Homo sapiens: one gene and its partners. The protein of the gene in region 3 purifies or fractionates together with the protein of the main gene of each other region. This does not show direct contact. Each region holds a gene or a part of one and is shown on either strand. Other genes may lie near its edges.

Evidence for each region. Proteins that work in one complex are often made in the same cells at the same time.
Region 1: the proteins of HAVCR2 (region 3) and PKN3 purify together in Homo sapiens (affinity purification with mass spectrometry; 2 studies listed by BioGRID and IntAct, with this or other methods). This does not show direct contact.
Region 2: the proteins of HAVCR2 (region 3) and ATP13A2 purify together in Homo sapiens (co-immunoprecipitation; 3 studies listed by BioGRID and IntAct, with this or other methods). This does not show direct contact.
Region 4: the proteins of HAVCR2 (region 3) and PNPLA6 purify together in Homo sapiens (co-immunoprecipitation; 3 studies listed by BioGRID and IntAct, with this or other methods). This does not show direct contact.

What each region holds. Positions count from the first base shown.
Region 1 is NC_000009.12:128,709,003-128,712,502, reverse strand, and holds part of PKN3 (serine/threonine-protein kinase N3), read right to left. Parts: intron 1-3,500.
Region 2 is NC_000001.11:17,001,929-17,005,428, forward strand, and holds part of ATP13A2 (polyamine-transporting ATPase 13A2), read right to left. Parts: coding exon 3,446-3,500; intron 3,145-3,445; coding exon 3,086-3,144; intron 2,894-3,085; coding exon 2,764-2,893; intron 2,484-2,763; coding exon 2,404-2,483; intron 446-2,403; coding exon 368-445; intron 176-367; coding exon 106-175; intron 1-105. UniProt on the Homo sapiens protein: ATPase which acts as a lysosomal polyamine exporter with high affinity for spermine. Also stimulates cellular uptake of polyamines and protects against polyamine toxicity.
Region 3 is NC_000005.10:157,085,332-157,088,688, forward strand, and holds the end of HAVCR2 (hepatitis A virus cellular receptor 2 precursor), read right to left. Parts: intron 1,964-3,357; coding exon 1,771-1,963; 3' UTR 501-1,770; downstream 1-500. UniProt on the Homo sapiens protein: Cell surface receptor implicated in modulating innate and adaptive immune responses. Generally accepted to have an inhibiting function.
Region 4 is NC_000019.10:7,556,217-7,559,716, reverse strand, and holds part of PNPLA6 (patatin-like phospholipase domain-containing protein 6), read right to left. Parts: intron 3,265-3,500; coding exon 3,148-3,264; intron 3,063-3,147; coding exon 2,993-3,062; intron 2,550-2,992; coding exon 2,433-2,549; intron 868-2,432; coding exon 566-867; intron 1-565. UniProt on the Homo sapiens protein: Phospholipase B that deacylates intracellular phosphatidylcholine (PtdCho), generating glycerophosphocholine (GroPtdCho). This deacylation occurs at both sn-2 and sn-1 positions of PtdCho.

The DNA.
Region 1 (3,500 bases), on a different chromosome or scaffold from region 3:
CTGGGCCTCAGTTTCCCCATCTGAACAGTGGAGGTGAGTCCCAGCTCTGCCCCACCTCTCCCAATGGATATGAAACGTGTTTTGTCAACGGAGTAAGTTCATGTGTCACGTCACTAGAGGGTTGTCCCTCAAAGGGTAGAGAAAGCAGTGGGGATCTAGCAGCTTTTGAGGACACGAAGCAGGCCCAAGAGTATCATTTAGGGAGAGTCTGGGCCTGGGGGTTACACACAGAGAGAACTTGTAAACAAAGGCAGGGGTCCAGGGTAGAAAGAGAAGCTTAGAAAGAACAGCTCGGCCGGGCGCAGTGGCTCATGCCTGTAATCCCAACACTTTGGGAGACCAAGGCAGGCAGATCACCTGAGGTCAGGAGTTCAAGCCCAGCCTGACCAACATGGCGAAACCCCATCCCAACTAAAAATACAAAAACCAGCCGGGCATGATGGTGGGCACCTGTAATCCCAGCTACTCGGAAGGCTGAGGCAGGAGAATCACTTGAACCCGGGAGGCAGAGGTTGCAGTGAGCCAATATTGTGCCATTGCACTCCAGCCTGGGCGACAGAGCAAGACTCCAGCTCAAAAAAAAACAAACAAAACAAAAACTTGAGGCCGGGCGTGGTGGCTCACACCTGTAATCCCAGCACTTTGGTAGGCTGAGGCAGGTGGATCACCTGAGGTCGGGAGTTCGAGACCAGCCTGGCCAACATGGTGAAACTCTGTCTCTACTAAAAATACAAATATTAGCCGGGCATGGCGGTGGGCGCCTGTAATCCCAACTACTTGGGAGGCTGAGGCAGGAGAATCGCTTGAACCTGGGAGGCGGAGGTTGCAGTGAGTCAAGATTATGCCACTGCACTCCAGCCTGGGCGACAAAGCAAGACTCTGTCCCCCACCCCCCCCAAAAAAAAGGCCGGGCGTGGTGGCTCACACCTGTAATCCCAGCACTTTGGGAGGCCGAGGTGGGCAGATCACGAGGTCAGGAGATCAAGACCATGGTGAAACCTCGTCTCTACTAAAAATACAAAAAATTAGCCGGGCGCAGTGGCGGGCGCCTGTAGTTAGTCCCAGCTACTCGAGAGGCTGAGGCAGAAGAATGGCGTGAACCCGGGAGGCAGAGCTTGCAGTGAGCCGAAATCACACCACTGCAATCCGGCCTGGGCGACAGAGCAAGACTCTGTCTCCAAAAAAAAAAAAAAAAGAGGTGGGGCGAGGTGGCTCACGCCTGTAATCCCAGCACTTTGGGAGGCCAAGGCGGGCAAATCACCTGAGGTCGGAAGTTCGAGACCAGCCTGACCAACATGGAGAAATCCCATCTCTACTGAAAATATAAAAATTCGCCAGGTGTGGTGGTACATGCCTGTAATCCCAGCTATTCAAGAGGCTGAGGCAGGAGAATTGCTTGAACCCGGGAGGCGGAGGTTGCAGTGAGCCAAGATTGCGCCACTGCACTCCAGTCTGGGCAATAAGATCGTGTCACTGCACTCCAGCCTGGGCAATAAGAGCAAAACTCCATCTCAAAAAAAAAAAAGGACAACTCAAGTATCTGGGGTGTTTAGCCAGGGGACAGGATATGGGGTGGCCTTGAGTAGTTGACTTCTAGGCCTTTTAACAAGCTGTTTCTTCTGCGTTCCTCAACTTGTCTACTTGGCCATAAGTACTCCCGTGTAAGTCCTTCAAGGCCAAGACACCACCTCCTCTAGAAAACATTCCTTGGGCCGGGCATGGTTGGCTCACGCCTGTAATCCCAGCACTTTGGGAGGCCAAGGCAGATGGATCACCTGAGGTCAGGAGTTTGAGACCAGCCTGGCCAACATGGCAAAACTCTGTCTCTACTAATAATACAAAAATTAGCCAGGCATGGTGGTGCAGGCCTGTAATCCCAGCTACTCGGGAAGCTGAGGCAGGAGAATTGCTTGAACCCAGGAGGCGGAGGTTGCAGTGAGCTGATATCGCACCACTGCACTCCAGTCTGGGCGACAGTGCGAGACTCCATCTCAAAAAAAAAAGAAAAGAAAATATTCCTCGATTCCCCAAGGCCAGGTGAGAGGGCTCCATCCAGAGCCTGCATTTCCTCTTCTCAGCTCTGCTCACAATGGAATGGGGTCAGTCGGCCCTGTAGCAGTGCTCTGTGGAGACAGGCACTGGCCTTTCCAGCTCTCACTGTATCTCGGTGGGATACAGCTTCAAAGCCCATGCTCTCAGATTATTTGTTGATGATGATTTGGCTGCTGCTACAAGGAGACAGATCTCAGTGCAAGATAAGAAAATTAACTTTTTTGGCCGGGCGCGGTGGCTCACACCTGTCCCAGCACTTTGGGAGGCCTAGGCCGGCAGATCACAAGGTCAGGCGATCGAGACCATCCTGGCTAACACGGTGAAACCTTGTCTCTACTAAAAATACAAAAACAAAAAATTAGCCAGGTGTGGTGGCGGGCACCTGTAGTCCCAGCTACTCGGGAGGCTGAGACAGGAGAATGGCATGAATCCGGGAAGAGGAGCTTGCAGTGAGCCGAGATCGCGCCACTGCACTCCAGCCTGGGTGACAGAGCTCAGAGTCTCACTCTGCTCGGAGTCTCACTCTGTTTGGAGTCTCACTCTGTCACCCAGGCTGGAGTGCAGTGGCACAATCTCAGCTCACTGCAAGCTCCGCCTCCCAGGTTCATGCCATTCTCCCACCTCAGCCTCCCGAGTAGCTGGGACTACAGGCGCCCGCCACCACACCCAGCTAATTTTTGCAAATTTTTTTTTTTTTTGAGACAGAGTTTTGCTCTTGTTGCCCAGGCTGGATTCCAATGGTGCCATCTTGGCTCACTGCAACCTCCACCTCCCGGGTTCAAGCAATTCTCCTGCTTTAGCCTCCTGAGTAGCTGGGATTATAGGCATGCACCACCAGGCCCGGCTAATTTTGTATTTTTTAGTAGAGACGGGGTTTCTCCATTTTTGTCAGGCTGCTCTCGAACTCCCGACCTCAGGTGATCCACCCACCTCGGCCTCCCAAAGTGCTGAGATTACAGGCATGAGCTGCCGTGCCCAGCCTAATTTTTTTTTTTTGAGACGGGCTCTCTGTTGCCCAGGCTGGAGTGCAGTGGCGCGATCATGGCTCATTGTACCCTCAACCTCCCTGGGCTCAAGCAATCCTCCCACCTCAGCCTCCCAAGTAGCTGGGACTACAGGTACGTACCATCATACCTGGCTAATTTTTTTATTTTTTTATTTTTTTTTGAGACAGAGTCTCGCTGTGGCCCAGGCTGGAGTGCAGTGGTGCGATCTCGGCTCACTGTAGGCTCCGCCCCCCGGGGTTCCCGCCATTCTCCTGCCTCAGCCTCCCGAGTAGCTGGGACTACAGGCGCCCGCCACCACGCCCGGTTAATTTTTTGTATTTTTAGTGGAGACAGGGTTTCACCGTGTTAGCCAGGATGGTCTCGATCTCCTGACCTCGTGATCCGCCCGCCTCGGCCTCCCAAAGTGCTGGGATTACAGGCGTGAGCCACCGCGCCCGGCGA
Region 2 (3,500 bases), on a different chromosome or scaffold from region 3:
GCTGGTCTGGTTGCCACCGTAAAGTGGCCCAGAGGAGGCAAGCCCTGGGCCAAGGTCACACAGCACGCCAGGCAGGGCTGGGGCAAGACCCAGGGACAGCCCTACCTCGTCCACCAGCAGCTGGGGGTAGGACTTGACCGGTATGCTGATCACGTTGGGGCCGTAAATGGCCTTCCTGGAAGAGGGGATGAGGCCAAGCCATCAGAAGGAGGAGCTGTGGCTGGACCCTCCCGGGGTGAAGGAGCTCCCCACTTTCAGCTGGGGGAACTGAGGCCCAGAGAAGGCAGGTGACTGGAAGGCAACCACATTGGGGGGCAACACAAGGAGCCCCAGTTCTCAGGGCACCCCGGTCCAGGGCAGCACTGACCTCACCATTTGGTCCTGGAGGCTGAGGCCATGGCGGGAGCGGTGGACGTCGTCACAAGAGCGGCCATGGTCCAGGAGGCTGGGGGTGGGTGCGAGGGGACACGCATGGGCCATGGGGCCTGAGGTCTGCATCCCCCACCCTGTGCAGGCTGGAGACTATGGGCTCTAGGCCCCCCATCCCCGTTCTGCCACACTGAGCTCCTGGGAGCAAGTAAGCCCCCTTGAACCCAAGGCTTGGCTTTGCCCTTTTGTTCCTCTCACTGGGTTCCAAACCAAGTCACTGAAGAAGGAGAACAGCGAGAGATGATGCTAATAATATGAACAGTGAAAAGAGTAGCTGTTATTTAGTGATAAGGGCACTATTTACACTGATGATACCCTGGGCAAGTCACTTAACCTCTCTGTGCCTCAGTTTTCTCATCTGCAAAATGGGGGCAGTGACAGCACCTACCACATAGGGCCATGGGTAGATTAAGTGGGGCAAGCCTCGGGGACTGCTTTGGACGTGCCTGCCACTTGCTAAGTGATGAATGCACGGGTGATTTTTGCTATTATCCCCATCATGCAGCAGAGGCTGTTGCTGCCATCCCCATCTCCCCTCTGCCTCACCTCCACATGACAGCTGGACCCTGAAAACACCTGTCTTTACCTGAGGCCTTCTGGCTGCATGTGAATCCCCTGCCTGTGAGCCCGGAAAGCGTGGAAGACTTTGTGTCCCGTGACTGATAATGGCAGGGAATTTGATGGTAACTGTCCTCACTCCCTGTGTGAGGTCGCCCAGAGGTGTGTGGTCTACGCTGGCCCAAGGAGATCCCCAGGCGACTGAAGTCCGGGTGTCCACAGCTGTGGCAGCCAGCATAACCTCCCTCCGTGCTTCCATCCCTTCCCCAGCACTGCCTGGGATCAGCTTCAAAACAAACTCCCTGCCCTTGAGCCCTTGTCTGGGGGTCTGCTTCTGCGGCATTCAAACTAAAGTGTGTGAGCAGGGCCCGGTGGCTCATGCCTGTAATTCTAGCACTTTGGGAGGCTGAGGCGGGTGGATCACCTGAGGTCAGGTATTTGAGAACAGCCTGGCCAACATGGTGAAACCCCGTCCCTACAAAACATGCAAAAATTAGCTGGGTGTGGTGGCATGCACCTGTAATCCCAACTACTCGGGAGGCTGAGGCAGGAGAATCGCTTGAACCCAGGAGGCGGAGGTGCAGTGAGCCGAGAATGCGGCATTGCACTCCAGCCCGGGCAACAAGAGTGAAACTCCATCTTAAAAAACAAACAAACAAACCAAAAAAACCACACACACACACACACACACACACACACACACACACATACACACAAACTAAGGTGTGTGGTGAGCTTGTGTTTCTTTTTCTTTTTTTTTTTTTTTGAGATGGAGTCATGCTCTGTCATCCAGGCTAGAGTGCAGTGGCGCGATGTTGGCTCACTGCAACCTCTGCCGCCCAGGTTCAAGCGATTTTCCTGCCTCAGCCTCCCAAGTAGCTGGGATTACAGGCACATGCCATCACGCCCAGCTAATTTTTGTGTTTTTAGTAGAGATGGGGTTTCAGCATCTTGGCCAGGCTGATCTTGAACTCCTGACCTCGTGATCCACCTGTCTTGGCTTCCCAAAGTGCTGGGATTACAGGGGTGAGCCACCGCACCCAGCCTGAGCTCATGTTTCTTAAGCCTTTTGTAGGTGGCAGAGCAGTGACTAAACCCCAAGCAGACAGTCTGAGTACAGAGCTGATAGTCTGATTCACAGTGGTGTCACAACCTCAGATCACATTCGGTGCCAAGCTCTACATAAATTATTATCTATTTCACCATCAAAACAATCCTAGGAGGCAGAAGTTATCTTCATGCCCTATTTATAGACAGAGATCCCAGGCCTGGAGGGGCTCAGTAACCTGCCCAAGGTTTCAGACAGCAAAAGCATCAGAGCTGAGAGGGGAGCCCAGGCCATGCCATGCCACCGTCTGTGCCCAAACCAGTGCCACTCTGGGAGGTGACATGAGCCACACAGGCCCTGACTCCTACCTGACCTGGTAGAAGGCTTGCTGGGTCTCGATCCAGATATAGCGCTGGCCCTGGAAGAGGTAATACCGCAGCACCCGCTTCTGGGTGGGAGAGAGGAGAGGATGGGTTGGAAGCTGGCCCCGGCCCCAGAAGCAGTGTGCTTATGCTGGGAGCCGAGGGATGGGGGTAGGGGGCAGGGACTGGTGTCACCAGACAGAGAGGTGGGGAGAGGCCTGAAAGTGTAAACGTGCTCAGACAGCATCCTGGATGTTTGGGACAACAGAACTAAAAGGTGGTGGGAGAACATGAAGTCTGACTCTCCCATTGCACAGATCATGAAACCGAGGCCGAGAGAGGGGCAAGGACTTTTTCAGAACCCACCTGTCCGACACTCACCGCCTCCTCGCTCTTGTGGAGCTGGGCCGTATCCTTCCAGGCACCCTCTGGTACCGCCCCAACTGCCGCCTGGCTCCGGCCATCCTCTGCCTGGGACTGTGGGGACGGCTCCAGGCTGGGGAAGCAGGTGAGGGTTACTCTCGAGCTCTGGGAGCTGCCCTGGCACCTCCCTGTGCTCACAGAGCCATCTTCCCTCCCTAGGATGGGAGGCGCCAGAGTCAGCCTTTATGGGGGGGCCGAGGGTTGGGGAAGTTGGGGAGGCCAGGGTAGCAGGGGCTTCTGGGAAGGGGCAATGGGGCTGCCTCACCTGCCCTCGCCGATGGCCTCAGTCTGCACCTGGACAGTGAAGAGCTGCCAGGAACTATCCTGGAACACAGAGGTATGGACTCAGTCTCAGAAGAGTCCCCTCCCCTCCCAGGCCCTGTCCTACAGCCAGGCGGCCCCTGCTGGAGAAGGCAGAAATCAAGGCTATGGAGAGCCCTCCAGAAACCACCCGACCCGTCCCTTCTGCCCAATGCTCAGATGGGAAAGCTGAGGTCCAGAGAAGAGCGGGACCTGCCTAATGTCCCATGGAAAGTCAGTGGCCGGGTTGGCACCCAAGCATCCTCCACCCCCGACCCTGACCCTCACTGCGCTTCTCTAGCCCCAGGCTCAGCCTGACTCTCACCTCTTTGTCTCTTATTTCGATAACGAGTGTTTCGGCGTGGGCCAGGTTGCAGGGC
Region 3 (3,357 bases):
AAATAATGCCGCATATCTACAACTATCTGATCTTTGACAAACCTGAGAAAAACAAGCAATGGGGAAAGGATTCCCTATTTAATAAATGGTGCTGGGAAAACTGGCTAGCCATATGTAGAAAGCTGAAACTGGATCCCTTCCTTACACCTTATACAAAAATTAATTCAAGATGGATTAAAGACTTAAACGTTAGACCTAAAACCCTAAAAACCCTAGAAGAAAACCTAGACATTACCATTCAGGACATAGGCATGGGCAAGGACTTCATGTCTAAAACACCAAAAGCAATGGCCACAAAAGCCAAAATTGACAAATGGGATCTAATTAAACTAAAGAGCTTCTGCACAGCAAAAGAAACTACCATCAGAGTGAACAGGCAACCTATAAAATGGGAGAAAATTTTCGCAACCTACTCATCTGACAAAGGGCTAATATCCAGAATCTACAATGAACTCAGACAGAGCGAGATTCTATCTCAAAAAACAAACAAACAAACAAAAAACAGTAAAAAAAAATTTTTAGTAAGTTCCAATTGTGTGTCAGAATTGTGCTAGGCGCAGGGGGCAACAATAAGCAAGACAGATCAAGCCTATACCGTCTTGAAATTTAAGTTTAGGGACCACTCTCTGTCAAAGGATCCAGCGCTGGTAATATAGATTGCTGAAGGCCTTTGCCTTCTTTCCACCAGGCAACAGAATTTGTGTCCCCGTCACTGCTTCTTCTTCTGTGAAAAATATAGCTTCAGTTTGGTCCACGAATACAGAAGTTGGTCAGAGATATTTTCTTTCAAGCACACAACAAGCAAAACTTGGCCAATACACACCAATCAAATGCACTTCGTTTTTCCCTGGGAGCTCCTGCCACATCTCAGCCCTGCAGGGCAGTCTTCATAAGGGAGACAAAAGAAGGGCTATGCACTGGCACTGACAGTTGGGCAGGCAGTGCTCAAATAAGCCTAAATCTCAACATTCCAAGGGAATCTTCAAGATCAAGGTAGACCTGGTCCAGTCATCTCTTAATCTTTTAAGGATCACTGGCTGGATGTGGTGGCTCACGCCTGTAATCCCAGTGCTTTGGGAGGCCGAGGCAGGCAAATCATGAGGTCAGGAGTTTGAGACCACACTGGCCAACATGGTGAAACCCTGTCTCTACTAAAAATACAACAAATTAGCTGGGCATGGTGGTGCATGCCTGTAATCCCAGCCACTCAGGAGGCTGAGGCAGGAGAATCGCTTGAACCCAGGAGGCGGAGCTTGCAGTGAGCCGAGATTGTGCCATTGCACTCCAGCCTGGGCAACAGAGCAAGACTCCATCTCAAAAACAAAAAACAAAAAGGGATCACAGATCTCTTTGAAAATCAGTGGCCCCTTTAGACTTTCTGTGCCAAAAAAGTTATGCTTTCACCTCAGCACCCAGTTTTCCCTAGTTTATCTGAAGTTTCATGGACATATGATGTGCCCGAATTTCCTGGAGCTCCAGAGACCCCACGTCAAGAATTCCTAGTGTATATAAAAGCCCGTTTGAGCTCTAACATCCATGATTAACAGTCTCTGGGTTGGGTAACTCTGTTGGCTTAAATACAGAGGCAATGACATGCCTGTTTAAGTTCAGTGCAGGTCCCAGTTCAATTCCCATGTGAGTCATTATCTTCTGAAAATGGGAAAACTCTGCTCCATAGCAGTGGACAGAACCTCCAAAACCAGTCAGGTGACACAGCTCATAGTTTCTGAAAAAGACAAAACACCAAGCTCAAAAATAAGGTGGTTGGATCTATGGCATTGCAAAGCGACAACCCAAAGGTTGTGAGGGTTGCTGCCTGCTGCTGACATAGCAATAATACTCATTGGGCTCCTCCACTTCATATACGTTCTCTTCAATGGTATAGATGTTTTCTTCTGAGCGAATTCCCTCTGCTACTGCATTTGCCAATCCTGAGGGAGGGAGGTTGGCCAAAGAGATGAGGCTGTGGAAATAAAGTGTTGCGGTTGAGTTAAGCATTTCCCAGGTAACACGGAATAGAGTTAAGAGAATAGGCTTTCCCAAAGAGACAGCAACTAAATATAGTGCATGATCTTTGATCAGATGCTGAACAAGTGGAAAAGCCAAGAAATAGCAATAAAATACTATGGGGAAACAATTGAGAAAATGTCCATTAATTTTAATTTTCTTAGGTATAACAACAGCATTGTGATAGCTAAGAGAATATTTTTATTTCTCGGAGGTGCAGGCTGAAGTTTAGGTGAAGTATCAAGATGTCTGCAATTATGTACACATTTAGATTTTCAAAAAATGGGCCGGGCGCCGTGGCTCACGCCTGTAATCCCAGCACTTTGGGAGGCTGAGCCTGGCAGATCACGAGGTCAGGAGTTCGAGACCAGCCTGGCCAACATAGTGAAACCCCGTCTCTACTAAACATACAAAAAATTAGCCAGCGTGGTGGCATGCACCTGTAATCCCAGCTACTTGGGAGGCTAATGCAGAGAATCGCTTGAACCCGAGAAGCAGAGGTTATAGTGAGCCGAGGTTGTGCCACTGCACTCCAGCCTGGGTGACAGAGCCAGACTCCGTCTCAAAAAAAAAAAAAAAAAATTATTAATGCTTTAGATAGCATTCAATGGACAGAGGTTTTTGTTTTGTTTTGTTTGATGCTGGGTCTTTCTCTGTCACCCAGGTGGGAATGCAGTGGCACAATCATGGCTCATTGCAGCCTTCATCTCCTGTGCTCCAGCAATCCTTCCACCTAATGTTTCCATTTTTTTGTAGAGAAGAGGTCTCATCATGTTGCCCAGGCTGGTCTTGAACTCCTGGGCTCATGTGATCCTCCCACCTCAGCCTCCCAAAGTGCTGGGCTTATAGGCGTAAGCCACAGCACCTAGCCCAGAATCATTTTTGTAATCCAAATATATTGTATTCCATTCATGTGCCAAACATCACTAAAAGTCTAAAATCTAGTAAGTTATGTAAGCCATACCTATTTGAAATGGATGTGTGGGTGTGTATAATCAGGAACGAAGGTCAAGACAGGAGTCTATAACAGACTAGCAGTTCTCAGCCCTGACTGTTCACTAGAATCACCTGGAGAGCTTTTAGAACAATTTCTATGCTTAGGCTTCATCCCCAGAGATTCTGATTCAGTTGCTCTGGGGTTGGCCCTGCATTAGTACACTTCAGTGCCTGGGTGATTCTAATAGGAAACTAAAGTTGAAAATGCCTGGGCTGTTTACAGAAATGCTGAGAACAGATACTGGGTTTCTTGCTCACTTCTGTAACGCCTAAGTGCAGCCCAGACCCTGGATATAATAGGAGCTCAATCCGTTGATGTTTCAGTTCAGTGGAAAAACCATTAATATCGAGATG
Region 4 (3,500 bases), on a different chromosome or scaffold from region 3:
ATGCACAACCACACCCAGCTAATTTTTTATTTTTAATCTTTGTAGAGATGGGGTTTTGCTATGTTGCACAGGCTGGTCTTGAACTCCTGGTTTCAAGCAATCCTCCCACCTCAGCTTCCCAAGGTGCTGGGATTACAAGCATGAGCCACCATGCCTGGCCCCCTGATCAATTTCAATTGGCTTGGGCTATGGCACATTTTTCAGGGTCAGTAGCACATAACACACGCACTGCTACCTCCCTCTCCTGGAACTGTGGCAGACATTTCTGCTTCATCACTATTCTCATTCCCACCAATGCAGAAATGGCAGTAGAAATCACTATACAGTGCTTCCAGGGGTGCAGCTGGCCTATAAGGAGAAAGTTCTTACACAGCACATGCACAGCCACACCCCTACTACATCCCCTGCAGACATCACCAATTGATCACTGATCTGTTTTCCAGAGATTCCAGATGGGATTCCTGGATTCCTCCTGGATTCCTCCCCCTCATACCACTCTGGGCTTTAAGTAGCAAAGCTTAGCCGGACCACCTATGCAGGCACCATGCCACTCCTGCCCACTCACATAGATCTGGTCGAACTTCCCAAAGTCCATGGTCTTGAAGCAGTCGATGGGCGGGCGCAGGTACTCGCAGTAGGAGCTGGACTTGACAACCTCTAGCTGCCGCACACAGGACACGTAGGCCAGGCGGGACTGGATTTCAGCCATGTCTGGAACCTTTACCTTGTCAGCCCAGGGATTCAGCCGCTTCCACAGCAGCCACCAGCCGGACAGGCTGTCCCCGTAGGTGCTGAGGTCCGTCTCATCCTGGCTCCCCACGTCAATGGCGATGACCGTTTTGGCACCCATGCTGCGGGCGATGTCCGCTGTGGGGCCAGGGGGGTCAGCGGGCTGCTCCCCTCGGGGGCCCGGGGCAGAGATGTTCAACCCAGTCCCACAGATGCCATCATGCAAATGATCACGCAAAAAAAAAAGAGAGAATACCCACACATGCAAACACCATGCTGTCATGCACAGACGTGCAAATGATGCAACTGAAGTTGAGGAGGGGGGTCAGGTGTTGGGAGGTTTTGTTTTATTTTCTGAGACAGAGTCTCACTCTGTCGCCCAGGCTGGAGTGCAATGGCACGATCTGGGCTCGATGCAACCTCCACCTCCCGGGTTCAAGCAACTCTCTTGCCTCAGCCTCTCAAGTAGCTGGGATTAGAGGCATACACCACCACGCCCAGCTAATTTTTGTATTTTTAGTAGAAACCGGGTTTCACCATGTTGGCCAGGCTGGCCTCGAATTCCTGACCTCAAGTGATCCACCCGCCTCAGCCTCCCAAAGTGCTGGGATTACAGGCATGAGCCACTGTGCCCAGCTCAATAAAGCTTTATTTATACAATCAAACAGAGGGCAGGACTCAGCCTGTGGGCCATAGTTTGCCCACCCCTGGCCTACAAGATTGTGAGCATGTGTGCAGTTGGCGTACATGTCTGTTCATATATGCACACTTCTGGGGTGTGAGATTTTAAGTTGTGTACCTGCCCGCTTCTCACCTGCACCCATAAAGGTGGTAGGCATGACTTAACTCGGTCAGAGGTGCCGCATCCTATCTACGTGTGTGCACATCCCTGCGTGTTTGAGGGAACGTGCAGGACAAACGGGACAGACTGGCATGCGTTGGCAAATGCCCTATTTCACTGACACACGTGTTCATCTGTGCACATGTGCCTGTGTGTACACGTGTGTGTAAGCCCTACCTGCCCCTGAGAGAAAGCATGTGCATATATAGCTGGTGTGCACACGAGTGTTGCATTCCACCTGCATGTCCCCTGATGTGTGTGTGGACGTGTGCACCTGTCCCTCTTGTACGTACATCCACTTGTGCTTAACACAGCACGCCAGCAGGTAGATGTAGATTTCTTTCTTTCTTTTTTTTTTTTTTTGAGACTGAGTCTTGCTCTGTCGCCCAGGCTGGAGTGCAGTAGCATGATCTCAGCTCACTGCAACCTCCAACTCCCAGGTTCAAGTGATTTATCTGCCTCAGCCTCCTGAGTAGCTGGGATTACAGGCACACCCCACCAGCCTGGTTAATTTTTTGTATTTTTAGTAGAGACGGGGTTTCACCATGTTGGCCAGGCGGGTCTCAAACTCCTGACCTCAGGTGATCCACCCACCTCAGGCCTCCCAAAGTGCTGGGATTCCAGGCTGAGCCACCGCGCCTGGCCAGAATGTAGATCTCAACTGCACATGTCGCTGTCCACAGGCACATTCATGTATCATTTTGTGCAAGTGATCGTATGTGTGCGCATGTGTGTCTGCACCCCTGCATGGGCAGCTTGGGCATGTGTCCCGTCATCGAGCCTGTCTGTGTGTGCCCACGCGTGTGCGTGTGTGTGGTGCGGGAGGTGCTTGCGTGTGCGGGTGGTGCGGGCGGCCACTTGCCTGGCAGATTGTTGATGTAGCCGCCATCCATGAGTAGGTGCCCGTCCTTGGGGTCGCACAGCGGGGGCAGGTAGCCCGACAGCGTCATGCTGGCGCGCACGTACCGCCACAGGGAGCCTGCGCGGTGGGACACACAGACACAAACACGCACAGACACGCTCAGACACGCCGGAGGCCCAGCCGGCCCGATGGGCTCGCTGACCTGGGACGTTGTTAACGTAGCACCCGTCCACCAGCAGGTGCCCGTCCTTGGGGTCGCACAGTGGGGGCAGGTAGGGGCAGTAGGAGGCGCTGGCCCGGACGTAACGCCACACACAGCCTGCGGGGATGGCGTGAGGGGGGTAAGGCGTCCGACGAGTCTCCCTGCTCCCCTCCCCCAAGGACGGACGTACCTGGGGTCTCCGGGGCATTAGTGGGTGGCGGTTAGTGGTCGGTGATCGGGCCAGGGTGGACGGTCACTCGTGTTAACAACGTCCCAGAAGCTCAGCGGCCCTCCCGGAAGCATCCCCCCAACCCCACGTGGCGTCAGCGGTTGCTGCAGGCTGGGCGGGGACACCCACCATCTTTGTGGACTCGCATGGCTGAGGCGGTGATATCTGTGGTCACGTTGAAGTAAGGCAGCCACAGGTCCTGCGGGGACAGGGATCGAGGTGGGGGAGGAGCAGGGGGCTCCTCCGGGGAGGGGTAGGCAGGGCAGGGGATGAGGTGGGCCTACCTCAATCTGCTTATCCTGGAAGACCCGATGGATGCTGCGGTTAAAGGCAGACCCAGTGAACATGGAGGTGACTGGGTACGTGAGGTCCAACACAGGTTCCAGCACCGAAGTCATGCTCTAGGGACAAGGGGCCAGACAGGGTCAAATAGGAGTTACATGGGGTCACAGATAAGGTTCATCAATAGGGGGTGAGCAAGCAGCACTTAGGGGCCAGGTGCAGCGGCTCACACTGGTAATCCCAGCACTTTGGAGGCCAAGGCGGGCAGATCACTTGAGGCCAGGAGTTCAAAAGCAGCCTAGCCAACATGGTGAAACCCCATCTCTACTAAAATACAAAAAAATTTGCCGGGCTG